Homo sapiens: one gene and its partners. The protein of the gene in region 1 interacts with the protein of each later gene in a pairwise test. Each region holds a gene or a part of one and is shown on either strand. Other genes may lie near its edges. The genes, in order: TCP11, MAP2K1, NPFFR1 and GRAPL.

Region 1 (7,034 bases):
TCAGGTGATCCGCCCGCCTCGGCCCCCCAAAGTGCTGGGATTATAGGCATGAGCCACCGCGCCCGGCCTTCTTTTTGTTTTGAGATGGAGTCTCGCTCTGTTGCCCAGGCTGGAGTGTAGTGGCACAATCTTGGCTCACTGCAACCTCTGCCTCCTGGGTTCAAGCGATTCTCCTGCCTCAGCCTCCTGTGTAGCTGGGATTACAGACGTACACCACTACACCCAGCTAATTTTTGTATTTTTAGTAGAGATAGGTTTTCACCATGTTGGTCAGGCTGGTCTTGAACCCCTGACCTCAAGTAATCCACCTGCCTCAGCCTCCCAAATCATTTTTTTATCATTGAATAATATTCCATTTTATGGGCAGTTTATTTATCAGTTGAAGGACATTTTTGTTGCTTCTAAGTTTTGGCACTTATGAATAAAGCTGCTATAAACATTTGTGTGCAGGTTTTCGTGTGAACATAAGCTTTCAACTCATTTTGGTATATACCCAGGAGCGTGATAGCCAGATCATATGTAAGAGTATATTTACTTTTGTAAGAAACTGCCCAGCTGCCTTCCAAACTGGTTGTACCATTTACATCTGACCAGCAGTGAATGTGAGTTCCTATTTCTCTATATCCTGGTCAGCCATTAGTGTTGTCAGTTTTCTGATTTTGGCCATTCTAATAGGTGTCATATAGCGGTGTCTTTTTTTTTTCTTTTTGTTGTTTTAATTTGCAACTCCCAAATGACAAATGATGTTGAGCGTCTTCTCATATACTTATTTGCCATCTGAACATCCTCTTTGGTGAGATGTCTGTTAAGGTCTTTGGCCTATTTTTTAATGGTTGTTCATTTTCCTATTGTTGCGTTTTAAGAGTTCTTTGTATGTTTTGGATATATATCCTTATCAGATATATATTTTTCAAAGATTGTTTCCTAGTGTGTGTCTTGTTTTTTTGTTCTCTTAACAGTGTCTTTCACAGAGCAGAAGTTTTTAATTTTAATGAAGTCCAACTTAGCAATTTTTTCTTTTGTGGATTATGTTTTTGGCATTGTATCTAAAAGGTCATCACCAAACTCAAGGTTACCTATATTTCCTCCTATGTTATCTTCTACAAGTTTTACAGTTTTGTATTTTACAAGTAGGTCTGTGATCCATTTTGAGTTAACTTTTGTGAAGAGTTTAAGGCTTGTGTTTAGATTCTTTATTTTTTTGTATTTAGATATCTAGTTGTTCCAACATTATTTGTTGAAAGACCCTCATTTCTAAATTGAATTGCCTTGGCTGGGTGCAGTGGCTCACGTCTGTAATCTCAGCACTTTGGAAGGCAGAGGCAAGTGGATTTCTTGAGCCCTGGAGTTCAAGACCAGCCCGAGCAACATAGCGGGACCCCCATCTCTACTAAAAATAAAAAAATAAAAAAATTAGCTGGCACGGTGGCTCATGCCTGTGGTCCCAGCTACTCAGGAGGCAGGGGCAAGAGATTTGCTTGCGCGTGGGAGGTTGAGGCTTCAGTGAGCCTTGATTGTGCCATCGCATTCCAACCTGAGCAACAGAGTGAGACCCTGTCTCAAAAAATAAAATAAAACAAATTTCCTTTGCTCCTTGTATTTTTTTCAAGGTGAAAAAAAAGACTTCTTTCTGGCTTCCATTACTATATAGATGGTAGTGCCACTGAAATTGGGAATACAAGAGGAGCAGGTTTGGAGGAGGAAGATAATGAATTTAGTTTTAGATACGCTGATTTGGAAATATCTGTGGACCTTTGGTATTTTCAAAGAAGCAATATCCTTTCCTAGATTTCAGGAGTATAAGAAAATGAAAGATCATTTAGCTCAATGCTATGTGTATACACAAATGGAAATCAAGTTATCTAGGCTAGATGCACAGTCAGTGCTAAAAGTCAGCCTGACTTCTCTCCATTCAGGGTTCTTTCTACTGCAGAGAGAGGGCTGCTCTGGAACCACAAGGAGCCCTTCTGAGAGGTTTTGCCATTGCCCTTGAAATACAAATCTAACCCTAGCTTGTTCAACTCTGCTGCAGTTCCAACATAGTTCCTGGCCTTTCCCTGTTATTATAATGGCCTTTTACCATATCAAATTCAGTTTGGGGTTTAGGAGGTTATGACACTGTAACTGTTTTTGGGTTGAGAGAGTAATCTGCTCATTTAACCCTCTTATAGTCTGGAAGGCAAGGTCAAGGAGACAGTGCACAATGCCTTTTGGGACCATCTTAAAGAGCAACTATCAGCAACTCCCCCTGACTTCAGCTGTGCTCTTGAACTTCTGAAAGAAATTAAAGAGGTGAGTGACCTTCCATTTGTAAATGTAAAGTTTCTAGACATCTCCAGCTCATTGGAGTGTCAGTGGCTAGCAAATCTTAACTGAACATGGTCCATGAATCAGTCAGAGACTAAGCAATAGACAGAAATCATACAGTAATTTTAGCAGGGAGGGTTTAATATAAAAATTATTATAACAGAGAGTAGGAGAAATGAGGGCTTGGCTAGTAAGAGTAAGGAAAACTAAAGAATCCTTGAATATCAGATAAAAGGGCATCTATCATACCCTTAGGGCTGAGAGAGGCCAACCAAGGACCTCATTTGAGAGGGCATAGCTATGCCATGAGACGTTACTGGCCTGTGTATGCTGCTGACCACAGTGCACTGCAGGAACCAAGCACTGGAGAAGCTATTCATGCTGCAGGAGCCAAGTACTGCAGGAGCCTGCTGAGTGAACATACCAGAACCGGGAATAAAAGCTCTTGCCTTTGCAATGTCTTTCTAGTATGTGGCAGACATACCGTAAGGTGACCCACAATGTTCTGCACCCTTGTATAATCTTCTCCCCTTGAGTGGATGAGATTTGCAACTTCTAAGCAGTACGGCAAAAGTGATGGGATATAACTCCCATGATTACATTTCATCATGTAATACTCTGTCTTAGGAGACTGGAGGGAGAGATTCTCCTGCTGGCCCTGAAGAAGCAAACAGCTGTGTTGTGAACTGCCTATCGAGAGGGCCACATAGCAAGGAGCTGCAGGTGGCTTCTAGGACCCGGGGTTAGCATCCAGACAATAGCCAGTAAGAAGCTGGGGCCCTCAAGTATACAGTTGTGAGGAAATGAATTCTGCCAACAATCTGAATGAGCTTGGAAACGGAATCTTTCCCAGTCATGTTTCCAAATGAGAATGCAGCCCAGCTAACACTTTGCTTGCAGACTTGTGAGACCCTGAACAGAGGACCCAGCTAAACTGCGTCTGTACTTCTGACCCACAGTAACTGAGATCATAAATGTGTGTTCTTATAAGCTGCTAGGATTATGGCAGTATGTTACACAGCACAGAAAACTAAATAACACTTTCTGCCGGTGAAGCTTAAAATGTGCTATCTGGCAAAGGAAAGATATGGAAAGGACTTAGTTCCATTTTCACAGAGCAAAGAACAATGGATTTGGATCTGTGAGGCAATATATTGATAAATGGCACAGTCCACCCCTTCGGCTACTCAGTTTCCACATGCGCTCTTCTATACACATTTGAATTCCTGAAAAGAACTCTTACAAGACAGATAGCTATTTATTATTTATCCTCCCCCAAAATGAGGAGACATGGCCCAAATAGTTATTGTATCCATCACTGGCCGCTCCTCAAATTCAGCCAGTTTCACTGACTATTGTGTTACCTAAAGGCTAAATCATAAAATTTAACTTCTAACAACTTGTATATAAAATAACAATGGAAAGAAAGAGGAAGAACAAAATGTTGGCATATATAAATAAACATACATATAATAAGCAAAGATAAAATTTATAGTCCTTGTTTCCATAACTGGTCACAAGGCTATAGTTGTTATCTATGGCTTCCTTCTTCCACGATTCATTCATTCCATATTTCCCTTGTCCTTGGCCAGAACTTCAGCTAGTTGGGGTTCTTTATCTGGTGCAGTGACCCAAACCTTCATTGCCAAAGAGTCTGAGACATTTTGCTTTGTTTGTTGTGGTTTTCCATTAACCTTTAATATTGAGCTTGGAAGTACTAAGAGGCAACTCAGAGAATCTCCTGAGTTTCAGGCATGGTCTTTCTTACCCCCATTGTGTGGCCACAATCCAATTTCTCATTGGTACTCAGGAGCAAGTACGGCATCCAGTACAGTAACTCCTTTTTTTACCCTTTTGGTTCAGTGGTATAAGGAGCCCCCAATGGTCAGTTTCATCTTCTGTTTCATTGGAACCAATGCAAGTATTTCACACAAATCAGCAGACCTCAAAGTTGGCAGGATGGGAAACAAAAATCCTGCAAGTGGGTTATCAGGTGTGCTAGTAAGAGGAAGCAGTCCTACTTCTACTGCTTGATTCCTGGACCCATGTATTCTGGCATTAGGGGACAGCACCATAGAATGGTCTTTGAAGCCAGGCACAGTGGCTCACACCTGTAATCTCAACACTCTGGGAGGCTCAGGTGGGCAGAATGCTTGAGTCTAGGAATTTGAGGCCAGCTTGGGTAATGTGGTGAAACCCATCTCTACAAAAAATAGAAAAATTAACTGGGTGTGGTGGTACATGCCTCTATTCCCAGCTACTCAGGAGACTGACACGGAAGGATTGCTGGAGCCTGAGAGGCACAGGTTGCAGTGAGCCATGATTGTGTCACTGTGCCCCAACCTGGGCAACAGAGCAAAACCCTGTCTCAAAAAAAAAAAAAAAAAAAAAAAAAAGTCTTTGATTCAAAGCATATATTGCATCCTGTAAGACCAATTCCCTTCCTTTCAGGTATTGTTGCTCACCTAATGCTGTAATTGAGTCTAAAATAAGCCATTCTACTTTTTAGTTAGGGCCAGCTGATTCTCAGTGAAAGCTTTTTGGTCAGACCAGTTAATTTAGTAGGTATGAATTCACTGCATTTCCTTTGCTGTGAAATGAGTTCCTTGAGCAGATGCAATGCAATGGAGTAGGCAAAGACCCAGGACAGCTGATAAGGCATTCTGTGATTATCTGGATGCTGGTACTGACAGAAGCATGGCAAACAGGGAAGACAACTCCATATCCAGAATATGTGTCTATCCCAGTAAGGATGAATCTCGCCCTCTCTAAACTGTTAGAGGTCCAGTGAAATCATCTGCCATAAGATGGCTGACTGATCCTCCCTGGGGAATGGGCCATATTGGGGGCTTTAAAAAATTTATTTAATTTTTTTTAGGATTTGTTTTTGTTGTGGCAAAATATTCATAACAAAATTTACTATTTTTTAGTGTTACAGTTCACTGGCATTAAGTATATTTACAATATAACCATCACCACTATCCATTTCCAGAACCTTTGAATCTTCCCTAACAGAAATTTTGTACTCATTAAACAATAATTTCCCTTTCCCCTCTCCCACTAGCACCTGTACTTTCTGTCTCTATGAATTTGACTACTCTAGGTACTTATAAATGGAATACAATATTTGTCCTTTTAGTTTTGGACTTGTTTAACTTAGTGTAATGTTTTAAAGGTCCATCCATATTGTAGCATATATCAGAATGTAATTCCTTTTTATGGCTGAATAATATTCTTATTATATGGATAGAATACATTTTGTTCATACATCTGTTGATGGACGTTTAGGTTCTTTATGCCTTTTGGCTATTGTAAATAATGCTGCTGTAAACCTTGTGTACAAGTATATATTTGAGTCCCTGCTTTTAATTTTTCTGGGTATATACCTAAAGTTGGAATTGTTGGATCCTATGGTAATTCTATGTTTAACTTTTTGAGGAACTGCCAAACTGTTTTCTGTTGTAGCCACACCATTTTATATTCCTACCAGCAATGTACCAGGGTTCCAATTTCTCCACATCCTAGCCAGCATTTGCTGTTTTCCATTTTTGGTAATGGCCATTCTAATGGGTGTGAAGTGGTATCTCATTGACTTGCATTTCTCTTAATGGCTAGTGATATTGAGCATCTGTTCGTGTGTTTGTTGGCTATTTGTACATCTTCTTCAAAGAAATGTTTACTCAGGTACTTTGTCCATTTTTAAATTGGATTGTCTTTTATTGAATTTTATGCTTTTGGTGTCAAATCCTGCCAAATCCTAGATCATGAATATTTACACCTATGTTTTCTCCAAAGAGTTTTGTAGTTTTAGCTCTTATGTTTAGGTCCTTTTTTTCTTTTTTCTTTCTTTTTTTTTTTTTTTTGAGACAGAGTCTTGCTCTGTCACCCAGGCTGTAGTGCAGTGGTGCGATCTTGGCCACTGCAATCTCTGCCTCCCTGGTTCAAGCTATTCTCCCACCTCAGCCTCCCAAGTAGTAGCTGGATTACAAGTGTGCACTATCACGCCCGGCTAATTTTTTGTATTTTTAGTAGAGATGGGGTTTCACCATTTTGCTCAGGCTGGTCTCAAACTCCTGACCTCAGGTGATCCGCCTGCCTCGACCTCCCAAAGTGCTGGGATTACAGACGTGAGCCACTACCATTTTGAATTAATATATATATATATTTTTTATTATACTTTAAGTTTTAGGGTACATGTGCACAACTGAATTAATATTTTTATATGGGGGTAAGGTAAAGGTCCAACTTTGTTCTTTTGCATGTGAATATCCTGTTTTCCCAGCACCATTTGTTGAAAAGACTGTCCTTTCCCCATTGGTTCTTGGCATTGTTGTTGAAAATCATTTGACCTTATATATCCAGGTTTTATTTATCAGCTCTCTATTCTTTTGGTCTGTGTATCTGTTCTTATTACCAGTATATGCTTGGTCTCTTATAAGCCATTTTCATTTGATAATAGATTGCTGCTGTGCATGTCCAGTCTTGTAGCTACGTAAGTTAGACAATACCTAATTCCTGATGGGAAGCTTAGGCCACATGGTTACCCAGTGTTCTATAGTAAGGTGTTTACTTTCTACCAAGGCCCAAGAAGTTGTTTCTCAAAAGGTGAATAATTATCATTAAAGAAGGAATAGATTTGCTCCCAATTCCTAAAGGTCCATGTGTGGTTCCCTTATTGGTGCTTGCAAGACATTCTGTACAGCACCCTTATTTGCTATGGACACTTA
Region 2 (7,000 bases), on another chromosome or scaffold:
AAAGCAGTGCACACTAGGAGACGCAATGGCGTATCTAACCTCAGATATCCCTTCCCTTAATATGACTACCACCCAGAACCACCTAGCCTAGGTCCCCAGCAGTAGAGGATGGATGGCTTTTTTTCTGACTCCTACAAATGCAACATGCTCTGCCTCCCTCAAATCCTTAAGCAGCGACGAACTAATCCTGAAACTGCTTTTCTACAGCCCATGGTGCTTAGTATAAAGCTGTGCATACAGTAAAGAGAGGTTAAATTAAACTCCCTAGTAGACTGAACCTGTGACAGCGATGTGTTTTTTTGTTTTTTTGTTTTGTTTTGTTTTTCCCAGAGTCAACCTCCGCCTCCCAGGTTCAAGCAATTCTCATGCCTCAGCCTCCCGAGTAGCTGGGACTACAGACGTGCACCACCATGCCCAGCTAATTTTTGTATTTTTAGTAGAGATGGGGTTTTGCCTTGTTGGCCAGGCTGGTCTCGAACTCCTCACCTCGTGTGATCCACCCGCCTCAGCCTCCCAAACTGCTGGGATTACAGGCGTGAACCACTGCACCCGGCCACCTGGGTGTTTTCTTAAGATGAGCAAGTAAATTCCAAGGTGAAGGAAACCAGGCAGTACTTACCTCGTTGACTATGTAATCCAACAACTCAAAAATTGCCATGGGAGGTCGGCTGTCCATTCCGTATGCTACAAATTTTATAAAAAGAAAAAATACTTCTCAGAAACAGATTACTTGTTAATATGAGGCAAGGGGTTGGGCATGGATCCCTGGGACCAGAACAGGGTCATGGACAATAAACATTAAACAGCCACAGATAAGGCTTGAACACAGAGGGGACCAGCAAAGGCCAGGGTACAAGTCTGGGCTCTGCCACATCTTAAGTTCGTAACCTTTGGCAAATCAGTTCACTGCTGAGCCAAACAAAGTTCTGAGTTTTGTAAAGCAGAGACATAATAATTATGTCTGTCCTTTCCCCCTTCCTTCTATTGAGAGAGGCACAAATGAGATAGCAACTAAATAACTAAAGGACTTAGTTTTAATTCTCCATGAAGTTGCGTTTCTTCCTTTTGTCTCCTAGAGTCACTGGCGAGCCTCAGAGGCCACAGCCACCAGCCCCTCCAATGACCTGCCATCAGCTACCTCTAGCCCCCTCTGCTTTCCCCTTTATACAAGCTCTCTCTCATGTGGACCTCATGGAGGTACAGGGCAGGTATCCCTGGCCAGACAGGAGCTACATAAAAAACAGTTGGCTAGGTCAGGCTATTCCCTGAGTACCAGGTTTACTTCCCAGTATTCACATTCAGAGAGGCAGGTGGTACTGCACAGTGTTTATCATCTTGGGAGTCAGACTTGGCTACTTGCAAGCCTATGTGGCCTTGACAAGTGCACTGTGCCTCAGTTTCCTCATCTTTAAAATTCAGATTATAGTCGTGATCACAAATGAAATGCTATTAAAATTATATAATGCTAGGCAAATCCGTGGACACAGAAAGTAGATTAGTGGTTGTCAGTGGATCAGGCAGGGGGGAGTGGGGGATGGGGTTTCTTGCTGGGGTAATGAAAATGTTCCAGAATAAGACAGTGGTGATGGCTGCACAACATGGAACAATACACTAAAAACCACTGAACTACATGCTTTAAAATGTGAATTTTGTCTTATGTGAATTCTATATCTCAATAAAAAATAAATCTACCAAAAGTCATGATTAAAAAATTAGAATGCAGTGGCTCATGCCTATAATCCCACCACTTTGGGAGGCCAAGGCAGGAGGATCACTTGAGCCCAGGAGTTCCAGACCAGCCTAGTCAACATAGTGAGACCTCATCTATACAAAAAAATTAAAAAAATTAGTCAGGCATGGTGGCGCATGCCTGTGGTCTCAGCTACTCAGGAGGCTGAGGCAGGAGGATCACTTGAGCCCAAGAGGTCAAGGCTGCAGTAAGCCATGATGGCGCCACTGTACTCCACCCTGGGTGACAGAGCAAGACCCAGTATCAAAAACAAAACAAAACAAAAAAAACCCACAAATTAGAAGCCAGTCATGGTGGATCATGCCTGTAATCTCAGCATTTTGGGAGGCTGAGGCGGGAGGATTGCTTGAGCCCAAAAGTTCAAGACTAACCTGAGCAACATAAGGAGACTATATCTCTACAAAATAAACAACAACCTAGCTGAGCATGGTGGCATGTGACTGTGGTCCCAGCTACTCAGGACGCTGAGGTAGGAAGATCACTTGGGCCTGGGAGGTTGAGGCTGCAGTGAGCTGTGATCATGCCATTGCACTCCAGCCTGGGTGACAGAGTGAGCCCCTTCCCTCCCAACCCCCGCAAATAAATTATAACCTGTAGTCCCAGCTACTCTGGAGGCTGAGGGAGGAAGACTGCTTGAGCCCAGGAGTTGAAGACTGTGACTAGCCACTGCACTGGGCGACATAGCAAGACCCTTAATAATAAAAATAATAAATACAAAAGGTTAGATAATGTATAAAGTCCTAAGTGCAGTACCTAGAACATAGTACGTACTCAACAAATGGTAGGAAGTTGTTGGTAGTAACAACACCCACCTGGAGACCCTTGCTGCTTCCCCTGGCCCTAGCCTGGCATCCAGGGACAGAGAATCAGTCTTGGCAGAATGTACAGAGAATCAGCCCTCCAGAAACCCCTGAAAGTAAGGGACCCTCCCCTCCAACAGTCCAAGATGGGGACACACCAGGCTACTCACAGCTAAGGGGCCTCCCGGGGGTCCTTGGCCTGGGTGGGGTCTCAGCCGCATCTCCTTCCACCTGGCACCCAAACATCAGCTCCAGCTCCTTGGCATCTGGAGGAGGGATGGGATACCTCCCAACCGCCATCTCTACCAGAGACAGTCCCATGCTCCAGATGTCTGACTGCACAGAGTAATGAGTCCCCTGGAGTCTTTCTGGCTGCAGGAGAGACAGACAGTGATAATCACCTAACCTAACTTGGACCCCTGGGTCTGCTAATGCATTTTCTCTTCTGTCCCTTCTCAATAGTTCATATCCTGTTTCAAGAGCTCCACTAACCTCTTGAATTTGGCCTCCTGCCTACCCCCAACACTGTGTTTACCAAATCCTAGCTGGCTTCTGTGGCTTTAACCCCTCATCCCTGCTCTATTTCTCCTATAATCTGGCCTAAATTGACAGACCACATGTAATCAGCTGTGCCCTGGCTGCCACTACAGCCTGTGGTTCCAGCTTTACCCAGCTTGGCCACAGTCTTGCACACGCAGGGCAGCCTGTCCGAAGCCCAGCATGAGAGGCTCATCTTGTCACTGAATCTGAAACATGAAGCTTGTGGAATGCGGGTTGGGAGTGAGGTGGTGCCGTGGATACATAGAACAAAAGATCTGGGGTCAGTGGGCCTGAGACTTAAATCCCAATTCCGGGACTTACAAGCTAAAAGATCCTGAATATCAGCCTCATCTATAAAATGGGGCTGCTGCTGGGCCGGGACGCAGTGGCTCACACCTGTAATCCCAGCACTTTGGGAGGCTGAGGCAGGCGGATCACATGAGATCAGGAGTTCGAGACCAGCCTGGCCAACATAGTGAAACCCCATCTCTACTAAAAATACAAAAATTAGCTGGACATGGTGGTGCATGCCTGTAATCCCAGCTACTTGGGAGGCTGAGGCAGGAGAATCACTTGAACCCGGGAGGCAGAGGTTGCAGTGAGCCAAGATCGCACCACTGCACTCCAGCCTGGGCAAGAAGAGCGAAAACTCCATGTCGGAAGAAAAAAAGGTGGGGGGGGGTGGTGGCTGATGATGATGAAAATGACAGTAACAATGATATAAGAAAACTCTACTTAGGATTACTAAGAAGATCAAATCAAATGAAAATGTACAGCCAGGCGCGGTGGCTCATGCCTGTAACCCCAGCACTTTGGGAGGCCGAGGTGGGTGGATCACAAGGTCAGGAGATCGAGACCATCCTGGCTAACACGGTGAAACCCCGTCTCTACTAAAAATACAAAAAAATTAGCCGGGCGTGGTGGCACACGCCTGTAGTTCCAGCTACTCGGGAGGATGAGGCAGGAGAATGGAGTGAACCTGGGAGGCAGGGCTTGCAGTAAGCCGAGATTGCACCACTGCACTCCAGCCTGGGTGACACAGTGAGACTCCGTCTCAAAAAAAAAAAAAAAAAGAAAATGTATGTCAAATGTTGTAAAATGCAATACAAATATTGGTTGATATTGGTGGGAAAAGCCAAAGAGAAAAAAAGTATACAGTGCTATACAAAAGCATTATTTTTAATGAGCATTATTTGAAATAGCACATGTATTTCAAGAACCCTACCGAAAAAATCTTTATTCTGCCCATAGTATATTCACGTAGACATTAACTTCTCCAGTAGCATTTTTCACTAACTCCAACACTGGACTATTTCGTAACTGACCATATAACCACAAAAACCCCAACCATTAAACCCTTGATTAGTAACTCCCAGGGCCTGTTAATGGATTTTGAACTTGAGAGTTGGCAGTCAAATGGCCCAGGATGCCAGCTGCTCAGTTATTAGACATTTAGGGAAGAAGCAATGAGGAGATGACAGAGAAAGAGAGTTCCACTGTGGGTCACTGGAGGGGAGGGGTGGGGATGTGGGTCAGTGCCAGGTGAGTGATGTTGACAGTGGCTGGAGTCACAGTGGGGGGTAGGTGCCAGCAAGAAGGAATGAGGATGTGTTCACACTGGGATCTGGGCACAGGTGCCAAATCCTCCCCAAGAGGCAAATGAGGGTGTGCTGTGCAAAGGGCGTCTGCCTGGCAAGGGGGCAGCTAGCTTTCAATCCTGGCTCAGCAAGGTTAAGTAGGCAGGTTGCTTAACCTCCCTGAATCTAGACTTCCTCACCTCTAAAATGGGAACAATAATCTTTATTTCCTGGGACAACCACATGGATCAAATGAGACCTTCCAGGGACATGACATGTGCTTTGACAGAGAACACATAAAATGCTTTGTACAAGTTAAGATCTGAGCCTCTGCGCCTGTCCCCCTCTCCACGCGGGCCTGCACTCCCCGCCACTTCTGTAAAGACTGCCTACTCACTCCAACGCTCCTCCACTTTGCCGCACTTCAGCACTGGCCCAGACTCACGTTTCCACCTTTCCAAATCATTCTCAGAAATGTTTTATCCATGTACCCTCCCACTCAGCCAACTAAACATCTACCCACTTGCCAAGCATTCCCTGAACACCTACCACATGCCAGGCCCCATGCCAGGCACTAGGGACAAGAGAGACACCTTGTCCCTGTCCCCAAGGAACCGGTGGTATGGAGGAGGGAAGAAAACACGCTGGTGCTGCCATAGTGTGAGGATGGCCCCACACAATGCTCTGGTGACAGTGTGAGCCAGCAGAGCCAGGAGCAGGAGGAAATACCCTCAACACAGGGTGTTGGCTGAAGTGGAGCAGAGACTCTGGCGAGGGGTCCAGGTATGCTGCAGTTAGAAGGAGGGGTACATGTCTGACAGACATAGTGAGGAGGGAGAAAAGAGGCTGGACAATTCTGAACAGACTCTCAGGAGTTGGGAGCTACAAGATACTGAAAGGACGGGCTGCTGAGAAGGCAGGTTAAGAGCCAATGCTCAGGTTTCTACCTTGGGAAACCAGGGAGATGATGCTGTCTATTTACTGCTAAGAGAAAAGGAGAAGGTGAGGTAGTTTGGGGTGGATTATATCTGAGCATCCTGGGTTTGTGGATCTGAAGACTATCATGTAGAGATGCCCAGAGGGGAGCTGGAGCTCACAATCCTTCAGAAAGAAAGCCACACTCTGGAGCTGGACAGTCCTTTCAGTGAGTCAAGGCCCCAATATCCCAGTTATGCTCCAAGGCCTAAGAAAGACCAAGACCATCTTCCCATTCAACTTCATCTCCTCAGGGCAGAGCACTGTGCCTCCTCCCTCACTTCTTGTCCCCTACCCAGCACAAGACTCTGGCTCCACAGGAAAGGCACCCACTGGGCTCCTCTCCCTGACCGTACAAGAAGCTCAAGCAATGGAAACTTCTGTTCATACCGACATGTAGGACCTTGTGCCCACGAAGGAGTTGGCCATGGAGTCGATGAGCTGCCCGCTGACCCCAAAGTCACAGAGCTTGATCTCCCCACGGGAGTTGACTAGGATGTTGGAGGGCTTGACATCTGCAGGGAAGAGAAAATAGAAAAGGAGGGAACTGACACAGGTAGATTGGGGAAGAGAAGGATCAGCATTCCACACAGACCAGCCCTGACCACGAGTCCCAGGACCACACCCCCGTCCGCCATCAGAGGCAGCCCTTGGCTTGCAAACACTGTACACCAAGGCCCTTTGTTCTGAGTTCAAGAAGCAACTGTCAGGAGATGAAATGAGCAGCTGCTGTAGAAGTAGAACAGAAAGACAGTCGATTTCCACTCTCTAAGAATGCAGACTTGGCCAGATGATCCACAGGAAGGAGTCCGTTATCATGAACAGTCAGGATTTCAAAGTCTGTTGCTTCAACCACCCCTACTGGTAAGATATAGTATCTATGGCTGGATCATGAAGGAGGCAGAAAAAAACAAGTAATAAGACCTATCTGCTTGCTGAGGCTACACAGGCTAGAAGGGGACAGGGTTTGGCGGGAATTCCCATTCTAGACTTCTGCACCAGGCATGGAGCATGTGGGTCTTTTTCTTACAAATATGTGTGGCAGGGTGGGAGCTGAGTCATGATTCCATTCCATTCCACTGGAGTCACTCACCTAACAGCCTACACAGGTACATCTACCCTGCCAGTCAAGGGGAACCCCTTGCTACCTGGAGCTGGAATGTGAGAGGCCTTAAAGCTGCTCCTCAGAGTCAAAACGATGCCCCCATCCCCCTTCCTTGCACTCTTATTATCACCCCATCCCACCCATCCGGTCACTGTCACAAATACCAGTACATTGGCCCTTAGTTTGCAGAGACCTAAATTTCCAAACATTTTTTCTTCCGCTGTATCCTCTGATTCATACAACTGTCCTGTAA
Region 3 (7,034 bases), on another chromosome or scaffold:
TCAGACTTCTTCACAACAAATAGCCCAGAACCAGCTGGGAACTCTCTGGCCCATATGACACATGACACTGATACAGTACCAGAAATGCATGGCACCAGCTAATACCACTGAGGGGCAGGAGGGCATACTCTCTCTCAGACCCTCATCCATCACCCCCAGAACCAGGACAAGGTCATGATGGCTCTTGGCAGCCTGCTCAGCACCAGGGCAAGAACAACTCAGGCTGGACATTACGAGAGTAAACACAATAGATTTCTTTCCCAGACCAAGAGCTTGGGCACCAGGAGTGGGCATTCTGGTTCACTGTTAGGCAAAAAAGCCTTTGGGGAAATTACCAGCTCTCCCGTCATCCCCACCTTCCTTGAAAGGCAGCATGTGGGGTGGGAAGAACAATCAGAAGACAAATTTTAATCTAAATCCTGCCCCTCTGTGGCCCTGGAAACTTGGCCCCTTTGAGCTTCAGTCACTTTGTGAAATGACAATAACATTCAATCTCCTTCAACCTCATTACTATGGATTAAATGAGACGGTGTCTGGGGACATGCTTGGAGAATGTATTGTACAACTGCTTAGGAATTTTCTTCTGCCCCTAAACCTGGAACTTAGAGTGGAGCAAACAGTAAACAGTCACTGTGTGTCGGTTAAGGGAACAGAGCCTCAGAGCCCCGACCCCTGGAAACGTTTCTTTTTTGTTTACTAAATTTCTAGCAACACCGTGTTTTCTACAGAGGTGGGGGGAAATGTCCATTTAAGTGCAAGATGAAGGGGCCTGTGAAAGGACCCTCCAAGGCAATCCCATGTGCTCCCGTCTCCTGGAAAGAAGCCACATTTCTTCAAGTTGATGCAGGGGTGTTGGGGGAAAGCCAGAGTAAACAGGGCTCTCCTGGTACCTCCTTAGAGTACACAAGTCATTTGTGCTGGGGAAGAGTTTAGTGTGTGTCCTTCAGGAGTCTCCAAATGGCACTCCGGCTGCAGCTTCAGTTGACCAACTTCTCCCTCCCAGGAAGCAGGGAGGAGAGAGACCTTGGGCAAGGCTTTGTACCTGCAGCCCCAGTGAGCAGATGTGTTTCCCAATGTGGAAAATGCATACCGTGCTTCCCCTTCCTCGTTGTCTATGAGTACGTAAAAGGACACCTCCTGTGGCCCTGCAGCATTACAATGTCTGTGGCATTGTAAGTTCTTGCCTTGGTCTGGGAGTCCCTCCTCTGTTCTCTAAGCTCAGACCCAGAGGGCAAGACCTAGAGTGCCCTGCAACTGAGGCAGCCTCCCCAAGGCTCGTTCTGAAGCTGCCGTCCTCTGAGGACAATGGCTTCTTGGAACTTCTTGGAACAAACAAGACAAACCAACACATTAGAGCCGGCAGCGGGGGCACACCGTGTTCTTCTAGAAAAGGATCAAGGGGAGTGGCTTCAGTAACGGAACATGAGGGACTCCCTCACATGGACACAAAGCATCAAGGGACAGGCCGGCTTTGCTTTTCGCTTCTTCCTAGCTGCCTAATTAGGACTTACTCAGTTCACAGTGTTCTACCTTACCGGGCCCTCTTGGAGCCAGCTGGAGATGATAAAAACCACACAGGTATTGGAGTCAGATAGCTTCACATGCCATTTCCACCTGAGAAACTTGGGTGAGTCACATCTCTCCAGGCCTCAGTTTTTGCATCTGTAGAAGGAAGAGAAGACAACCTATCTCCAAAGCGTTGTGACAATTCAGTGAGATGATGTTTGTCAAGCCCACCACACAGGGCAAGTTGGTTCCTTCCCGTCCCCCGCATTTGCCTCTACTGAGGGTGAAGGCAGCAGAGAAGACATCACCAGCAGCTGCCCACCACTGCCTGGCTCTGGAGAGGGAGGGACCACGCATCCTCACCTAACCACACCAGGCCGCTATCGCCTGCATGTATCTCGTGTCCAATCGGGGCCCTGAGGCAGCGTCCCGCCCTCCCTGGACCCCCTCAGATATCCCAGGCTGGAATGGTGAGGGGCAGGTGGGAGCAGCCAGGCCCTTCCCTGGGCAAGCCGTGGTGAGCCACCCGCCCATTCCGCAGCGGGAGGCGGCCGGGCCTGGGGGCCCCACTGCTAGGGCCCGACTCAGAGGGCAGCCCGGAGTCGCTGGGCCGCACCACCACGAAGACCCGCCTGTGCAGAAGCCCGCCGGGCCGCTCGGAGTAGGCCTCCTTGTGGCTCCCCGACGGGCGCGGGCAGAGGCGGGCGCGGAAGGCGGCCTGGAAGCCGCGGCGGAAGTTCTCGTTGAAGTAGCCGTAGATGATGGGGTTGGCGCTGCTGTTGAAGAAGGCCAGCCAGTGCGCGAAGGGGAAGGCGTAGACGGTGACCAGGTGCAGCTGCGGCGCGCTGAGCTGCCCGTAGTCGATGAGCAGCAGCAGCGCCCAGAGCGGCAGCCAGGACAGCGTGAAGAACAGCGCCACCATGACCAGCATGTGCACCACGCGCGCTCTGCGCCGCGATGCTCGCGGGTCCGCAGCCTCCTCGCCCCCGGGGGCCGGGCCCGGGGCCTGGCAGAGCTTGCGCGCGATGCGGGCGTACATGACCACGATGAGCGCCAGCGGCGCCAGGTAGATGTGCGAGAAGAGCACAGTGGTGTAGACCCTGCGCATGCCCTTCTCGGGCCAGGCCTCCCAGCAGGAGTAGAGCGGGTAGGAGCGGTTGCGGGCGTCCACCATGAAGTGGTGCTCCTCACGGGTGACGGTCAGCGTGACGGCCGAGGGACACATGATGAGCAGCGCCAGGGCCCAGATGACGGCGATGGTGACGAGCGCCTTCCGCAGGGTCAGCTTCTCGCGGAAAGGGTGCACGATGCAGCGGAACCTGCCGCGGGGAGAGAGACAGGCGGGATCTGGGTGGGTCCTAGGGCCCCTGCGAGGGGACGGTGGGTGGGATGCGGGCACCTGACCTTCATCATCGCATCTAGGGCGGCGTCGAAGAACAGCTCAGACCTGAATTGGCTGAGTAGTCAAAGAACAAAGGCAGCTACAGGATTTATGAGAAGGGAGGAGGAAACCGCAGATCGTGTGGGAACAATGAATCCTGTGTGCACTTTTGCACTTTTCTCCTTTTTTTTTTTTTTTTCCTGAGACAGGGCCTCCTTCTGTCGCCCAGTCTGGAGTGCAGTGGCGCGATTACGGCTCCCTGCAGTCTCCACCTCCCGGGCTCAAGTGATCCTCTCCTCCCACCTCAGCCTCCTGAGTAGCTGGAACCACAGGAATGCGCTGCCACCTCGCCGGCTAATTTCTTTCAATTTTTGGAGAGATGAGGTCTCACTGTGTTGCCCAGGCTAGTCTCAAAGTCTTGGGCTCAAGCTATCCTCCGGCCTCGGCCTCCCGAATTTCTGGGATTATAGATATGAGCCTCCTTGCGGGGCCATTTGTGTACTTTTGGGGGTCAACTGATTAGCTGGCAGCTAGCAGAGCGATCAGAGTGCGCAGTCTGTCCTCGACAAGGACGATTAGGTGCGTCAAATAACACAGTTTCTGTTTATGGATTCTCCAGAAAACCTCAGGAGGTCAGATGTAGAGCCTACATGTCAGGCTGTCCCTATGTCATCTTGGCCATAGTATCAGTATCTCTACAATGCAAGGACAAGTCTGCACCATTTATTTCCTCATGAGGACAACTCAGCATCTGTTATTACACCCTTTATTATTTTTTAAAGGTGAGGCCTTTAAGATAGTTACTACACTGTTGATTTACAGACAAGGAAACTGGGACTCGAGTGTTAAGCAGTTGGCTCAAGTTCACATAGCAAGTTGCAAGGACCAGTCTTGAACCCAGATTTGTCTTGCTTCATATGCCATATAAACCAGTAGCTGTAAACCCTCCATGTGCATGAGACTCTCCTGAAGCATTTCAACAACAAAGACAAAACCCGTGCCTATTTTTTCAGGCCAAGGATTCCAACCTAATTAGTCTAGAAAGTGGTTTTAGCATTATTTGTTATGTGCTGTTTTTGTTTTTAAAGCTCCTGGGGTCAGGTGCCATGGTTCATGCTTATAATCCCAGCACTTTGGGAGGCCAAGGCAGGAGGATCACTTGAACCCAGGAGTTGGAGACCAGCCTGGGAAACATGGTGAAACCCCATCTCTACCAAAAAAATTAACCAGATGAGGGGATGCTTGCCTATTCTTCCAGCTACACAGGAGGCTGAGGCAGGATAATCACTTGAGTCCAGGAGTGTAGGGAAAAGAAAGAGAAATCAGACTGTTATTGTGTCTGTGTAGAAAGGGAAGACATAAGAGACTCCATTTTGAAAAAGACTTGTACTTTAAACAATTGCTTTGCTGAGATGTTGTTAATTTGTAGCTTTGCCCCAGCCACTTTGCCCCAGCCATTTTGACCCAACCTGGAGCTCACAAAAACATGTGTTGTATGAAATCAAGGTTTAAGGGATCTAGGGCTGTGCAGGACATGCCTTGTTAACAAAATGTTTACAAACAGTATACTTGGTAAAAGTCATCGCCATTCTCTAGTGTCAATAAACTAGGGGCACAATGCACTGCGGAAAGCCGCGGGGACCTCTGCCCTTGAAAGCAGGGTATTGTCCAAAGTTTCTCCCCATATGATAGTCTGAAATATGGCCTCATGGGATGAGAAAGACCTGACCGTCCCCCAGCCCAACACCTGTAAAGGGTCTGTGCTGAGGTGGATTAGTAAAAGAGGAAAGCCTCTTGCAGTTGAGATAGAGGAAGGCCACTGTCTCCTGCCTGCCCCTGGGAACTGAATGTCTCAGTATAAAACCCTATTGTACATTTGTTCAGTTCTGAGATGAGAGAAAAACCACCCTATGGTGGGAGGTGAGACATGTTTGCAGCAGTGCTGCCTTGTTATTCTTTACTCCACTGAGATGTTTGGGTGGAGAGAAACATAAATCTGGCTTACGTGCACGTCCAGTCACAGTACCTTCCCTTGAACTTAATTATGACATAGATTCTATTGCTCACAGGTTTGTTACTGACCTTCTCCTTATTATCACCCTGCCCTCCTACTACATTCCTTTCTGCTGAAATAATGAAAATAATAATAAATAAAAACTGAGGGAACTCAGAGACCGGTGCCGGCGCAGGTCCTTGGTATGCAGAGCACCGGTCACCTGGGCCCACTGTTGTTTCTCTATACTTTGTCTCTGCGTCTTATTTCTCTTTCTCAGTCTCTCATCCCACCCGACTTGAAATACCCACAGGTGTGGAGAGGCAGGCCACCCCTTCACAGGAGGTTGAGGCTGAGACTGCAGTGAGCCATGATCAGACCACTGCACTCCAGCCAAGGCAATAGAGCAAGACCTTGTCTCCAAAAAAAAAAAAAGCTCCTGGAGAAGTCTACTGTGCAACCAGAGTTGAAAACAGCTGCTGTAGGGGGAGGTAAAAACCTCCCCCTGCAGCATGGTTCAAAGACGATTGCTCAACTGCAAGCTCTGTGAGGGCAGATGCCTTGACTTTTCATCTCAGTATTCCTAGGTTGTGATTAGATAAATGCATGAATGACCAGAGGGGAAGTTACTCAAAATACTTTCTGAGCCTTAGTTTCCTCATCTGTAAAATGAAGCCCATAGTATGACCTACTCTGTTGGGTAGTTGTGAAGATTAAGTGAGATGACACTGACCACACTTCTTGAGACATTTCAAATGCTTAATAGTGAGGAAAAAGGAGGGGCTCCTATTCCCCAGAATGGCTTCTGTCATCTACTGATGCCAGAAAATAGAAACCTGAAGAATGTCCAGTCAATCTTACTTGTTTAATGGAGGGGAAAGCTTGCCCAGTGGGGGTCTTATGGTCACATGGCTGTTTGGAGTCAGAGCCTGCCCTGGAACATAGGTCTAGAGCTGACTCTCAGTCAAGTGTCCTTTCCACTTCGCTACACTGTGTCCTGCCCTCCTGCCAACCCAGTTTTTGGCCTGATAGCCTGACCTTTTACCTCTCCCACAGCCTGACTCAGGCCTTGTTATCTCAACCTATATGACTTTGACCTACTGGCTTCATACTTCACATACTCAAGAAAGCTCCAGAGAATAGTGGCTTATGTCAGCACTTTGGGAGGCTGAGGAGGGTGGATCACTTGAGGACAGGAGTTCGAGACCAGCCTGGCCAACATGGTGAAACCCTTCTCTACTAAAAAGACAAAAATTAGCCATGCATGGTGGTGCGCACCTGCAATCCCAGCTACTCCGGGGACTGAGGCACGAGAATGGCTTGAACCCGGGAGGCAGAGGTTGCAGTCAGCCAAGATCGCCATGGCACTCCAGCCTGGGTGACAGAGCAAGACTCTGTCTCCCCCCTCAAAAAAAAAAAAGAAAGAAAGAAAGAAAAAGAAATCTCCAGAGAATAAATAATTCTTAAAGCCTGTAGTGCTGGCTATGAATGCAATAGCAGTAAATGGGTGGAGGAGAATCTTGGGGTAATCTGGGCAGGCTTCCTGGATGAGGTGGGACTTGAAGAATACTGCAAACACCACTGGGAGAAGTTGTACACTCTCATTTCCTTCAACAATGATAACAAAACAAAGGTCGATGAAGGGAAGGGACTTCTCCTGATCACCCAGCTAGTTAGTGGCCTTGTGGAGAGTAGAACCCACTTCATTACTCCAGCTGCCTACTTCACTGAGTTACAAAAAACTGGGCTTGAGGTGGAGAGAGGATGTGAACACTAGATTCCACAAAGGGCAGGGTTAAGATATGCCTGTGCTGGGGAGAGAACAAGGAGGAGGGGATGGGTGTGCAGAAGAAACAACATACTATTAGCAACTGATATTTGGACTCTATGCCAAGAACTGTGCATAAGCTTTTACAAGCAGGAGCTCACTGAAGCCTCCCAACCATCCTGTAGGGTAGCTACCATTTTACAGATGAGACTACAAGGGCTCAGAGTAGTTAGGTGACCCACCCAACATGATACACCAAGGCAGGAGTGAGCAAATCTCCAGCTGATCTGCCTGCCCACCTTTCCCTGGGGTGAAGCACCCAGAGGGTGCCCTTCCCCTGCTAACAATGCTGTGGGGGAGGAGCACTCATGTAGTGCAATATGGAG
Region 4 (7,034 bases), on another chromosome or scaffold:
GCCATTCACTTCAGTGGGCAGTGCCGGGGGTGTGAGAGCGTCTCCATTGTGTCTGAGTGTGCATTCCTGGGATGCTTGTGTGTGTGTGTGTCTGTGTGTGTCTCCCACTGTGTGGAGTGACTGTTATGTGTGAGTCTCTCACTGAGCAATCATGAGTATCTTTGTCTCTCTGTGTGACCCCTACATCCACCTACCCAGGGGAACAAGGGGCTAGGCTGACCCCTGGGCTGTCAGAAAAGCCCCAAGGACCAAGTCAGGCCTAATGCTGGCAGCAGCCAGTCCTGCCCAGCGAGTTTTTCTGGCCTGGTGGCGGCAGCAGCAGCAGCAGCAGCAGCAGCAGCAAAGGTAACAGTGTCAGCCCAGAGAGGAAAAACAAGGCTGGGGTGGGGGCAGGAGCCCTAGGACACCCCCTCCACCACCCCAACCAGGGCTTGTGGACGTGTGGACCCACCTGGGTGCTAACTGCCCGCTGGGCGATCTCCATCAGGCATGGCCCCTCTCTGGCCTCAGTTTGCCCATCTGTGAAAAGGAGGGGTGGAACAACCTGTTCGGCAGCAGACAGGAACCAGAGTCAAGCTGAGCTTGGGAGGGGCAGGACACTGGTGCAGACAGACTCCTGCTGGGTCTTTGGAGCTCAGGGAGGGTGGGTGGAGGACAGACCAGGTCTGTCAGGGCACAGAGGTCGGTGGGCACCAGCTCTAAGTTCCTCGCTGTGTGACCTTGGGGAAGTTGCTGCACCTCTCCAGGCTTCAGTTTCCTTACCTGCAAGCTGGGCTTCTGGGGATCAGGCAGGTCTCCTCACTTCCTCCCTGTCCTTGCCTGCAGCCAGTCCCTTCCTCCTAAAATTGCACCCCCCCTCCACCACTTCCCTGCTTCATTTTCTCCAAAGCCTTGGTCATTGTGTAAGATTTTATACAATTTCCTAATCACTTATTGTCTGTCACCCAGTAGCACATGGGCACTTGAGGGACAGAGAGCTTTGCCCTATTTTGTTGCTGGCTGAATCCCCAGGCCCTGGGACAGGGCTGGCACACAGCAGGGGTTCAGTGACCAGATGGGCAGGGCAAACACATGTGCATTGACTCCAGGGTACCTCTGGCTAGAAAGGAGGCAAATATGTCACTTGGAGACAAACTGTCATTTATGGCAGAAGAGTCCACAGTAGCTTGGATAGGAGTGTGGGGCAAAAGTTAGGCAGCCCAGACATTGCACGCCAGCCTTGGCCCCTGGCCCGCTGCCCGCCAGCTCAGACATGCTCCCTGGAGGAGGAGGGGGACAGCCCTTTGTAAACTCATAAAGGGCAGCTAGCTATGGCCACAGTTGCTCTAGGAGGCAGCATGAGGCCCATAAACCCCACCTCTGACAGCTTTACAGGGCTTGGTGTGAGTATGCCAGAGATGCCATGCATAGTGCCATCAGAGTTCCCAAGTACCAACCAGCAAGGGTGGAAGAGCTCTTACACACAAATCTGCCAGGCTGTCATTTTCCGAGGTGGCCATCAGGTCACCCGGCTTCCCAGCATCTGGGTTCCCTGACTCCCTGTGCTGCTGCCTCTTCTCTAAGAGTGCTGGATTCATGGGCAGGGGGTGGGGGGCAGCCTTCCAGGCCAGGAGGGGCTCCCTAATTCCTCCCCAGCTTGGTGTGCAGTCCTTGGAGCCTTAATATAATTATGATAACTGGCACTTATCATGTGCCAGTCATCATAAAAAACACGTTACATAGCTGTCCATTTTATAAATGAGGAAACTGAGGCTCAGAGGGGTAACTTGCCCAGGATTATACAGCGAGCAGCTAGCAGGTGTCAGAGCTGACTGTTGCTCAAAATACCATGCTCTTAGCCACATGCCCCATTTGAGTCTCAGCTTCCAACTCTGACCCCTGCTTGGTGGTTGTCCAAGGACCACTGAGAGGCCCCATGACAGATGATGGACAGAATGGGAGCAGGACCCAGGAGCCTGGGCCCAGGCAGGAAGAAGCCAAGGGTCAATGGCTCCACCTGCTGGTGCTGTGTACAACCCACAGCCAGCCAAGCCCAGGAAGCTCCTGACAGTTTTGACCTGGGCACACTTGGCCAGTATGCCTTGGACAAAAGGTTCGGGGGCACAGGCCAGGATTTCTCTGAGGGTCGCTTCCAGATCCCTTCCCAGGAAACACCGGTGCTGGCTCGCCTGCTCAAGAACTGCTCCCTAAGACTGTCCATCTTCCCTCCTGGTCAGAAAACACGTTGTTATCCAAACACACCCCTCGCTTCCCCACCTCTAGATCTCTACTCATGCTGTTCCCTGTGCCTGGCATATCATCTACTCTCCTTGTGCGCCAAAATCCTACTCATGCTTTAGAGCCCAACTCAGATGTCACTTCCTCCCTGGTGCCTTCACTATGTGGAATGTATCCACTGTCATTGAATTTCATTTATTCATTTGCTCATCATAGAGACCCCTGGGCCAGGCTGTGACCATTTCCCCTTCACATGCCTCTGGTTTGTCTCCTGTTTCAGTCCTGCCTTGTGGTTTTCACACAGCTGATGCTCAATAAATGCGTGCTGAGCAAACTCACAAGGCTGGGGTGTTCAGGTCTGATCATGTGCGTGTGCGCAGGTGGCTGCACTTACAGAGAGACGCCTGAAGAGGGCAGCACACTGGGGCGCTAACTTGGAGAGTGAGGCCGCGTGATTTGTTAGAGGAGGAAGCCGGAGGGCGGAGGGAGGGCCAGCCCCTCCCCCTCAACTCGGGCTCCAGACGTAGTTTGAGTCCCCTGTGCCCCCACTTTGCTGGGTGACCTTGGGCTTTGGGGTTGGTTCCAGGAGCCACTCAGCCAGGCCAGCCCGCCTGGCGGACGCCATTCCCAGGAGATGACCAGGCCCTGGACAGCCGACACTTGGAAGACTGCCACGTCCTGCCTCCGCAGGAGCCGCAGCTCCCCGGGGCTGCAGGGAAGTGGTGGCTGGGCTGGGGGGGTGGGGGGTGAGCCCGCGGGGACTCCAGGCTCCAGGTGCCCACACCATCCCGGGGGTGGGCAGTCAGGGCCAAGAACGCACAGTAAACCCCCAGCACACACAAGCGCACACACGCACATGCTGACAGCACTCGCATTTTTAAGATGGGGAAATAGAGGCTCAGAGGGGGCATGCGCGTTCCTGCCCCTCAGGATCACCAGCCTGCCCCCAGGAGAAAAGGGAAGGGAACAAGGCTGATGGCTGGTTCCACCAACTGGGCGCCCGGGCTCAGGGTGAATGTGGGGGGCTGTGACCCCTGAGACGTTGGATCTGCCTCCCTGGTATGGTTTGGATGTTTGTCCTCTCCGAATCTCTCACTGAAACGTGACTCCCAGTGTTAGAAGTGGGGCCTGGTGGGGGGTGTTTGGGTCATGGGACAGACCCTCATCAGTGGCTCTTTGCAGTAATGACTGAGGTCTGGTTGTTGAAAAGAGCCTGGCACCTCCCTCCCCGACTTGCCCCCGTCTCGCCATGTGATGCGCCGGATCCCCTTCCCCGTTTACCATGCGTAAAAGCTTCCTGAGGCCTCACCAGAGGCACATGCCGGTGCCATGCTTCCTACACAGCCTGTAGAACACCAAGTCAAATAAACGCCTTTTCTTTATAAATTACCCAGCCTCACGTGTTCCTTTATCACAACACTAAATGGACGAACACACCCCTAGAGCCGCCTTCCTGACCATAGGCTCCTATTCCTTGCGGGTGCCTCCAGGCTCAGGGGAGCTCGCCACCCTGCAGGGCTAGCAGCAGACGTGCTGATCCCACACAGTGAACAGCTTGAGCTTGTTTCAAAACAGGCCGGCTGAACACATGGGAGTCACAGGGACCCGGCAGAGCCTGGAAGGCATCAGGTGGGTGGGAATGCTTTTCCCCCAGCAGGAGCCCTCATGGGCTCCTGGCCCAGCCTGTCTGAGTCTGCCTTTGTCTGCTTCTTTGGGACCCCCTGACTCCAAGCCCCATCAAGCTTGCATCTCCACACCCAGCCCCAGTGTTAGCTATCGACCCAGGCCTGTATTTCTTTGTCCTTTATTTTTATTTTTATTTTTATTTTTTGAGACAGAGTCTTACTCCATCACCCAGGCTGGAGTGCAGTGGCACAATCTCGGCTCACTGCAGCCTCTGCCTCCCGGGTTCAAATGATTCTCATGTCTCAACCTCCCGAGTAGCTGAGATTACAGGCGTGCGCCACCATGCCTGGCTGATTTTTGTATTTTTAGTAGAGACGGGGTTTCAGCATGTTGGCCAGGCTGGTCTCAAACTCCTGACCTCAAGTGATCCACCCGCCTTGGCCTCCCGAACTGCTGGGATTACAGGCGTGAGCCACCACACCTGGCCTTCATCCTTTAGGAGATCATGAGAGGCCACTCTGCCCTCCTCTGGGGCCACCCCTTCCTTCATCCCTTCCTCCCGGCTGGACTCTTTACCACCCCAGTGCTAGCTCCGCTGGTGGCAGTAAGAGCTGGCATGGTAAGCGCCTCCTCCATTCCGGGCTCTGTGCCCACAGCAGCCCTGAGAGCTGGTACTGCTGGTGGTCCCCCCGCACACCTCCATGCCTGGGCCCAACCATTTCTCTGTGTCCCCTCATCAGCCCCTACCCGTACAGTCCCAGAGGCCATCATCTCCCTCCTGACTCCCCACGGGCCTCCCTGCCACCACGCTCTCCCCCAACAGTTCTTTCTCCTCACAGCACTCAGAGTCATCTGCTAAAAATGGAGTCCAATTACATCTCTCCCCTGCTCAAGACCCTCCATGGCTCCCTATTGCTCTGAGAGAAAACCCGACCTCCTTTCAGGCCCTCTGTGATCACTGGATGTGGGTGGAACTCCAGCCCCTGCCCTTCGCTCACTCTGCTCCAGCCACGTCACCTCCTCCGGGCTCCTACATGCCCCAATCACATTCCCACCTCAGGGTCTTTGCAAATGCTATTCCCTCTGCCTAGAAGCCTCTCTTCCCAGGTCCTCCTCATTCCTGGGCACCTGGGAAGCCTCCACCTCCTAGTTCAGATCTTTGCTGCAAGGCCACCTCCTCAGAGAGCCCTTTCCTGACCACCTTGGTTCATTCTGTATTAACATGTTTTCTTGTTCACTCACAAAGACTGAAACCCACGACAGCAGCAACTTTGTTTTTTTTCCCATTTGGTTTCCCCAGCCCCTAGAGCATCCTGGCACATGGCACCTAATCAATAAATATTCCTTGAATTAATGCATCTAGATTCTACCAAGGCCTAAGAGTAGGAAGGACAGAGACTAACTAGGAGCCTGACCCTGTCTACCCCCACCCCCATTCCTGCTGCTACTTTCCAGCCTGGATTCCTCAATCACTCCAGGGTGGCCCTTTAGGATTGGATTCTGTGCTGCCCAGAGGCTGCCACACCACAGCTGAGGGCCGCCCTAATACAATGCCAGATGTTCCCCAGCACGGCCACCCTGCCTCCATGCCAGGGACTATTCTAATTGCTTTAAATATACCAACTTGTTTCTTCCGTGCAATAGCCTATTTTACATGTGAAGAAACAGGCACAGAGAAGGTAAGTGACTTGCCCAAGCTCACACAGCCAGGAAGTGGCAGAACTAGCATTTGAGCCCAGGCAGCCTGGCCTCAGGGTGCATCTTCCCAACTATATCACATAGAGTGGGACCCTGTGCGGAGCACATCCTGGACACCCGCCCTGGGCGTTTCAGCACTCTCCTGCCCTCAATCTCTTGCCACATCACCACCCTGGACATCGCCCTCTCCTGATGAAGAACCTATGATGGCTCCTATACTCGTAGAAGCCTGGACCTTCAGCCTGGCATTGAGGCCTTGCACAGCTGGCCTGATCCTGCTTTCCCAACACACCCCACTGCTCTGGGCTGCACCCTGGGGTGCCCAGACCACCGCCTGTGTCCGGAAGGCCTCTGCCCGGACTGCTCCCTCTGCAGGGATGCCATTCCTCCACCCTCACTCCGTGAGCCCGTCCCGGGCCCCAAGGCTCAGCTCAAATGCTGCCCAACCCCGCCCACCCTCCTCTGCACACACCCCCAAGGGCCAGAGCTCACTTCACAGACACAGAGAACTCCCCTGGGGAGCTCTCACTCTCCCGGATCAGGAAGGCTCCCAGATGGTTCCGCTTCATCAGAATCTCTTCGGCCAGCTGCCGGGAAATCCTGCCCGAGTACCACCTGCGGAGAGAGGGAGCCGGTGAAGGCAGTGTGAGACCAGGCTCTCAGCCAGCCTCCCACCCCGTGCCAGGTGTTCAAGGTCTGAGACAAGGGAGATGTGATTGCACCCATTTTACAGATGGGAAAACTGAGGCACAGAGAGGTGAAGCAATACACCCACAATCACACAGCAGAGGCAGGCAGGAGCTGGAACACAATCCCAGCATTTTAGCTCCTGAGGCCAGCCTCTCCTACCATGCCAGCAAACACATACCCTTATGGAAACAGAAAAGTCACACTCCAGTGAGCCACACCCCAGCCAACCTCAGTCTAACTTTCCCTTTGAGATGGTAGATTCTTTAAAGTCAAAAAATAAATCAGGCTCGGTGGTGCGTGACCGTAGTTCAGCTACTCGGGAGGCTGAGATGGGAGGATCACTTGAGGCCAAGACTTTGAGACCAGCCTGGGGAATAGAGAACCTCCCACCCCCATTCCTTAAAAAAATACTTCTGGCCGGGTGCGGTGGCTCCCGCCTGTAATCCCAGCACTTTAGGAGGCCGAGGCGGGAGGATCACGAGGTCAGAAGATCAAGACCATCCTGGCTAACACGGTGAAACCCCATCTCTACTAAAAATACAAAAAAATTAGCCGAGCGTGGCGGCATGCACCTGTAGTCCCAGCTGCTGGGGAGGCTGAGGCAGGAGAATGGCATGAACCCAGGAGGCGGTGCTTGCAGTGAGCCGAGATCGCACCACTGTCCTCCAGCCTGGGTGACAGAGCAAGACTCCGTCTCAAAAACAAACAAACAAACACTTTTTTTAAAAAATAGAGTCTTGTTCTGCCGTCCAGGTTGGAGTGCGGTGGCATGATCTCAGCTCACTGCAACCTCCGCCTCCTGG

Evidence for each region.
Region 2: the proteins of TCP11 (region 1) and MAP2K1 interact in binary tests that used the Homo sapiens proteins (3 or more experiments, as listed by UniProt).
Region 3: the proteins of TCP11 (region 1) and NPFFR1 interact in binary tests that used the Homo sapiens proteins (3 or more experiments, as listed by UniProt).
Region 4: the proteins of TCP11 (region 1) and GRAPL interact in binary tests that used the Homo sapiens proteins (3 or more experiments, as listed by UniProt).

Annotation. Positions count from the first base shown.
Region 1 is NC_000006.12:35,124,320-35,131,353, reverse strand, and holds part of TCP11 (T-complex protein 11 homolog), read left to right. Parts: intron 1-2,171; coding exon 2,172-2,292; intron 2,293-2,562; exon of another isoform or gene 2,563-2,776; coding exon of another isoform or gene 2,777-2,797; intron 2,798-2,934; exon of another isoform or gene 2,935-3,071; intron 3,072-7,034. UniProt on the Homo sapiens protein: Plays a role in the process of sperm capacitation and acrosome reactions. Probable receptor for the putative fertilization-promoting peptide (FPP) at the sperm membrane that may modulate the activity of the adenylyl cyclase cAMP pathway.
Region 2 is NC_000015.10:66,480,912-66,487,911, reverse strand, and holds part of MAP2K1 (dual specificity mitogen-activated protein kinase kinase 1), read right to left. Parts: intron 6,158-7,000; coding exon 6,033-6,157; intron 2,923-6,032; coding exon 2,721-2,922; intron 685-2,720; coding exon 620-684; intron 1-619. UniProt on the Homo sapiens protein: Dual specificity protein kinase which acts as an essential component of the MAP kinase signal transduction pathway.
Region 3 is NC_000010.11:70,253,003-70,260,036, forward strand, and holds part of NPFFR1 (neuropeptide FF receptor 1), read right to left. Parts: intron 2,826-7,034; coding exon 1,955-2,825; 3' UTR 1-1,954. UniProt on the Homo sapiens protein: Receptor for NPAF (A-18-F-amide) and NPFF (F-8-F-amide) neuropeptides, also known as morphine-modulating peptides. Can also be activated by a variety of naturally occurring or synthetic FMRF-amide like ligands.
Region 4 is NC_000017.11:19,137,588-19,144,621, reverse strand, and holds part of GRAPL (GRB2-related adapter protein-like), read right to left. Parts: intron 6,157-7,034; coding exon 6,034-6,156; intron 520-6,033; coding exon of another isoform or gene 507-519; exon of another isoform or gene 1-506.